Regions from separate parts of the Homo sapiens genome. Here region 2 is linked to region 1. The links come from fine-mapping of genetic effects on gene expression. A gene starts in region 1. The other region holds a variant in brackets. All regions are shown on one strand. Distances are from middle to middle.

Region 1 (2,910 bases):
GTTTCCCCATCTCAGCAAGGGGTGCATTCTTCCGGTGTCTCAGACCAAAACCCTTGGGGGCATCTTTGATTCTTTTCTTGTACTGAAGCCCCACATCCAAATCATAAGCAAATGCCTTTGGCCCCACCTGCAAAGGTACAGAGGGTGTCCCCAGGTCTCCTCAGGCTGCCTCCACCTTGGGAAATTCTCACACCTGTATGACTGCGCCCTCCCACTGTCTCTCTGCCACAGCTCTTCCCTGCTATTTAGTCTTGACCCTGCACCCCGTGACCCCTTCAGGCTGGGATTCTCCTCAAAATGAATGTGAAAGTGTCCTGACTTTACCCAAGTTTAACAAACATTGGCTTAAATTACCTGATAAGCTTGCTTCCCTCTCACGTTACTCAACTACAGAAATACAAAAGTCGCTTATTTTTATGTGCCTATTTTCTCAAAACAAATAAAAAAGCACGAAGACAAGTGACCCCAGCTCCAAACTGTACACCCTCTACCTTCCTCATGTCAAAGATCTACCTGCAAACTTGCCGCAGTCCTGAAACGGTAAGAAATCATTTTTGGGGCTCCTCTTTACGTCTGCATTAACTAATGGTCTAGGTAACCCTATCAAGTGTCATAGCCACATAACATCCAGCTCCACGACATCATAGTTTCTAAATGTGTTCTATAATCATAGAACGCGGGCCTCTAACAGTGTGAGTGGTCGGGTATGGTACATGCGTGTTTGGCTTTAGGTTTCGAGTTCCAACACCCAGGCGCCTGCAGGCAGGGTATGTGTACGCGTGCGTGTGTACGTGTGTGTGTACCTGTGTGTGTGTGTGCGCGCGCGTGTGCGTGTGTGTGTTCGTCTCCAGATGGTTGTATGCACGGATGGTTATGAGCCAGTACGTCGCCGCTGTGAGCGCGCGAGGACCCGGGGCTCCAAGTGGTGAGAATCACTCGAGGGACCCTTCGGATGCCTTTTTCCCCCTCTGCTTTTGAGCTCTGCAGCACAGCGGTGCCGGCCGCCGGCAGGGAAGGCTGCATCTTCTCTGCGCCGCCAAACCGTGCCCACCATCGCGGTGACTGCCGCCTAGGTCGCATCCCTGAGCCGCATCCGCGCGTAGGGGCGCACGGGCACGCGCACAGGGAGGCCGCACACACACACACACATCTGTACAGGGACGAGCCGGGGGTCTCTGACGCCCGCCGCTCACCTCGCCCCGGCCTGGAGCCTTTTGGCCCCGCAGGTGCAGCGACGCCCAGCCCCCGTGCGGCCAGCGCGCCGCGTCGGCGGATCCTGCAGCCCAGAGAGCCCAGGGAGCCCAGGGAGGGGAGCGGGGCGCGGGCGGGGCAGTGTCGCATAACCGCAGGCGCGCCCCGCGCCGCCCCCGCCCCGGGCCCACCCTCCCTCGCCGCGCCCCTCCCAGCTCACCCACGGACGAGCGGATCCTCGACCTCCGCGGCAGGGACATCTTAAGAGCTTTGTCCAGGCCTGCGCCGTTCAGCATCTCGCCCGTGTCGGGGGCTCGGCGGCCCCGGGCGAGAGACGGAGGCTACGCGCAGGGCTGGGCGCAGGGGCCGCCGCCCGAGGACCATGGGTGGGCCAGCGCCTCGCCGGGCTGCTAGCTGGCGGGGACCGCCGGCGCCTGTGCCGGGCCGCGCCCGAGGCTGCGCCGTCCGTGCCGCAGCGGCCAATGCGGCAGCATCCGCGAACGCCACCGCGGCGGGCCCCGCTGGCCCGGGCTGCGGCGTGGGGGCGGGGGACCGGCCCTGAGCGGAGCCCCGCGGGAGGAGGAGCGGACGGGAGGCTGGGAGGGATCCGCAATATTACGCAGGACCGGGGCTTTTAGGTGTCGGGGAAGGCGATGGGGAGGGCTTGGTGGGGTGGGAGATTGGGCCTGTACTTTCGGGGGCTCTTCCAGGAGAGGGGTGCACCTGGGGGACTCGGAGTCTCTGCCTGTCTGCTACCTATTTACCTGCCTGTCACTTGTCCTGTGCAAGTGGAGGCGCTGTGATTCCCCAGGACTCATCCAGTCCCTTTCTTTTCGCAGTTTCTGTTCTTCCGTGCCCAGCCTGGTGGGATCTGTGTAGGGACTTCGTGGAAGGGTTATTTCCAAGGTGTCTGATGTGTGGCTTGGCACTCAGAGAAGTCGGGGGTCTCCAGCCCCCCACTCTCCACAACCTGCCTGACATTCTAACTACGCATATTAAAGCTGCAGGTAGCCCTAGGGAACCTTAACAGCAACCTTCTCAACCCCCGCACGCACACACACACACACACACACCCATCGACACACACACACACACACACAGACCCATCGACACACACACACACACACCCATCGACACACACACACACACACCTTCTTTCATAAAACAAAACCATCGAGAGGTAAGATGACTTGTCCAAGGTCACTTGATCTATTTTTTGTTTTTTCTTATCGCGTAATGTTTAGACTGTGCTTGGTCTTTCTGGGCACAATCCCATGAAGATAAGAAGCTATCTTTATTGTGCCTGATGACATTCTGACCTCGGAGTAAAAACGGAACAAAACAAAAATAAAACTGTTCAGGTGAAAGTCTGACCTTGCTTTTACTGATGCGAGCATTACATTTCTTTTAACCTAAATTAACATTAGGGACTGACAAGGAGTAGTACAGAGTTCAGCAAAAAGAATCTGTGCTAGCAAAGACAGCAGTGCGGCCTGAGCTCCTCCTGCCTGGCCTCTGCATCTGATTTTATTTTCTTTTACTTTTTTTTTTTCTTTGACAGAGTTTTGCTCTTGTTGCCCAGGCTGGAGTGCAATGGCGCTATCTCGGCCCACTGCAACCTCCGTCGCCCGGGTTCAAGTGATTCTTGTGTCTCAGCCTCCCGAGTAGCTGGGATTACAGGCGCCCACCACCACGCCCAGCTAATTTTTGTATTTTTAG
Region 2 (2,910 bases), 650 kb before region 1:
TTTTTGGTGGTGTCATAAGCACGGATGACTTCTTCCTGACTAACAGCTCCGTGTTCTTCTTGAGAAAAAGCATACCCATCTGAAAGTGAAGCACACAGGAGAAACTGGTTAACAGGAGAATTGGGGGAGCACACTAGGTTTAAAATAAGCTGCTTTTTTTTGGCAGCGTGCGGGTGAGTGCGACATCTGGCCTCCTTAGCCTTGGATAGGTGGAGGCTTGAGATGAAGAAACCTGTGGCCATAGAGGGGCCGTGGCGGCCGTGTGCAGGCTAACTGGGGTCCCATGGTTCTAGCTGCTGATGCTGGGAAGGGAAAGCCTCTGAGGGTAGGTTTCCTATTTCTAGGGGGCTGCGGCTGAGCTCAGTGTGGGAATCACACACAGTGGGTCACTGGTCCCCGACTCCACTTTCCCACTGCCAATTAAGAAAAAACACTCCTGTCTGCCTGATGCTGTAGGGCAGCCAGCTAATTTATGAAGCTGTAAACATGCCAGGGAAACACACACACAACACTAATAGTGCAAGCTGGCAAAATGCACGTGATACCTGGAGCCTTCCTGTTTATTTATTTGAGACAGAGTCTTGCTCTGCCGCCTAGGCTGGAGTGCAGTGGCGCGATCCCAGCTCACTGCAACTTCTGCCTCCAGGGTTCAAGCAATTCTCCTGCTTCAGCCTCTTGAGTAGCTAGGGCTACAGGCATGCACCACCACGCCCAGCTATTTTTTTTTGTATTTTTAGTAGAGACGGGGTTTCACCATGTTGGCCAGGCTGGTCTCAAACTCCTGACCTCAAGCAATCTGTCCACCTTGGCCTCCCAAAGTGCTGGGATTACAGGCCTGAGCCACCACACCCAGCCCTGTTTTTAAATCAGACTGATCTGGACTGGTAATAAGTAATCAAAGTAGGGTTGTTTCCATGTAAAGAAAAAGGTTACACAATAAACTCAAAAGGAATTTAGTGATTGATTGGACCTGTGGCCATACAAAGACTATTCTTACACAATCAGTTCATATACTATTAATAAAATAAATAATAGCCAAGACTCATTAAATGCCATGTGTCTAAGACACTGTGCTATAAAATAAAGCTCATTTAATCCTCCCAGAAACCCTATGAGATAGGGGATTATACTCCTCCCACTTCACAGATGAGAAAACTGAGGCACAGAGATTTTTGTGACCTGCCCAAGGTCACAGACCTCGTGAGTGGCAGAGCTGGGAAGCAAACCCAGGGTCCACACTCTAGAGCTGAGAACCAGCTTTAGTGTTCACAAGCCCAGAGTGGGGCTTTTCTTCCAACTGGCCCTTCCCACAGAAAGACATTTATAAGGCCTGCTCTCCATTGGCTAACCCTTCTGTGTCAGGGGTCTGGAAAAGTCCCACAGCTCAATTAGACATTCTGGCCAAAAGACAACACAATAAAAAAACCTGA[C/T]AATCTTGAATTCCATCCATGCATGCGTACAACTTATCAGGGGAGCTGTGAGTTCACTGTCATACTCTTTAAAAGGAGAAAAGAAGTCGAAAAGGGTGCCCATGAATCAGTTCCTGGACTGCCTGTTAATTTCCTGAGGCATCTGGCTTAAAAAGGAAATTTCTAGAGTATCAAGACATACAGTAACAAGACAGAAGAGTCCTCGTGGGATGGAGAAGAGGAGGAGACTTTAAAAGAAGACACTCAGGCTGTTTTCTTACTCTGTGTGTTCCCATAACTGAGAGTCCCGGTCCTGGGCTGGCTTCCTGGCTCTTCCAGAGAGCATGCCTTCTGGCCACTGCCTGAGAATCCCAAAGGCTCAGGGGGGTTATCGGGGGAGGCAAGGGCTTGTCTGCAGAGGTGGCCTGAGAGTTGACTGAGGACATGGGCTGAGCAGCAGGGAGGAGGGCCCAGACCAGTGAGGCCACAGGAGGAAGAGACAGTGGGCGGGAGAGAAGGTGATACAAGCTGAGCCAGGGTGAACAGAACAGAAGAGAACAGAACAGAGAGGAATCTTCCACAGGGGGCTTTTGTCTACTTGCTCACCTCCATTTCTAGCAAAACAAAACCTACAAACCAAAAATTCCCACCACATGGTAGCCACAGTGAAGCAGCTCCCAGACCATTGTGAGCCCTCAGACAGCTGGGTACAGGAGCAGGTGGGTGTCTGAGCCTGAAGGCAGCATCAGCCTGGAGGGGAGCTCCCTTGGGGGCGGATATGCTTGTGCCAGCCTTGGGCCCACACCTAGTGCACTTGAACTTCCTGACCAGGTAGGTGGCTGTGCTTTGATTCTCAGGGCTTTAGAGTTTTCACATGATCTGCTTTCAAGCACCGAAGAGCAAATGCCACCACTCCTGTTCTCCTAAGAGCTTTTGGATTTTCACCAAGTTGCTTAATCAGAGATTAGCAGCAGGGACAAGGAAACCTCCGTTGCCCAGCTTTGGAGGAGCTGCCCCAGCCTCCTGCCTCCCTCTGGCACCGTGTGGCACACACACTCTCATCCCCAATCCTGTACAAGCTGCCCTTTATGAAGCATTTTTACTGCAGTCCAAGAGGAGACGTCTTTCCTTGGGATGTTTCAAAGCAAAATCTAGCAAATAACACTGCTTCGTCTGCTCCAGTAACAAGGCTATGTACTGTGGTCAACTTGGACAATTTCCATTCTCCAGTTCTTTAACAAGGAACGTTTCTAGTCCACATCTGAAGTCATCCTGAGGGGGCCTGGCAGAACAGCAGCTGCAATGGCAGGGTCGTCACTGGCTCCACAGCTGCTGCACCACTCCCGGGGCTGCTCCTCAGTCCTACAGAAGTGGTTCTGAGTAAAGAACAGTCACCCCAAAGAATGGGACATACTCTTTTATAAACTCTTCCGGTGGGAAGCTGAGGACTACTGAGCTCTCCACCCTGAAGATGTCTTTCTCCACTCGCTTGTTTTCATCT

The links. PIP is the estimated chance that this variant, and not a neighbour inherited with it, causes the effect.
Region 2: its variant is fine-mapped to the expression of ATP8A2 in cerebellum (GTEx, PIP above 0.99). The same link has a PIP of 0.9 or more in cerebellar hemisphere.

Annotation. Positions count from the first base shown.
Region 1 is chr13:25,370,790-25,373,699 of GRCh38, reverse strand. ATP8A2 (ATPase phospholipid transporting 8A2) reads right to left here and starts at 1,726. Exons shown (of 37, transcript NM_016529.6): 1 at 1,412-1,726. The coding sequence starts at 1,487.
Region 2 is chr13:26,017,057-26,019,966 of GRCh38, reverse strand. ATP8A2 (ATPase phospholipid transporting 8A2) reads right to left here. Exons shown (of 37, transcript NM_016529.6): 37 at 1-79. Among named protein-coding and RNA genes, the nearest start is that of SHISA2, 34 kb to the left of the region's middle. The variant C/T (reference allele first, on the strand shown) is at 1,431.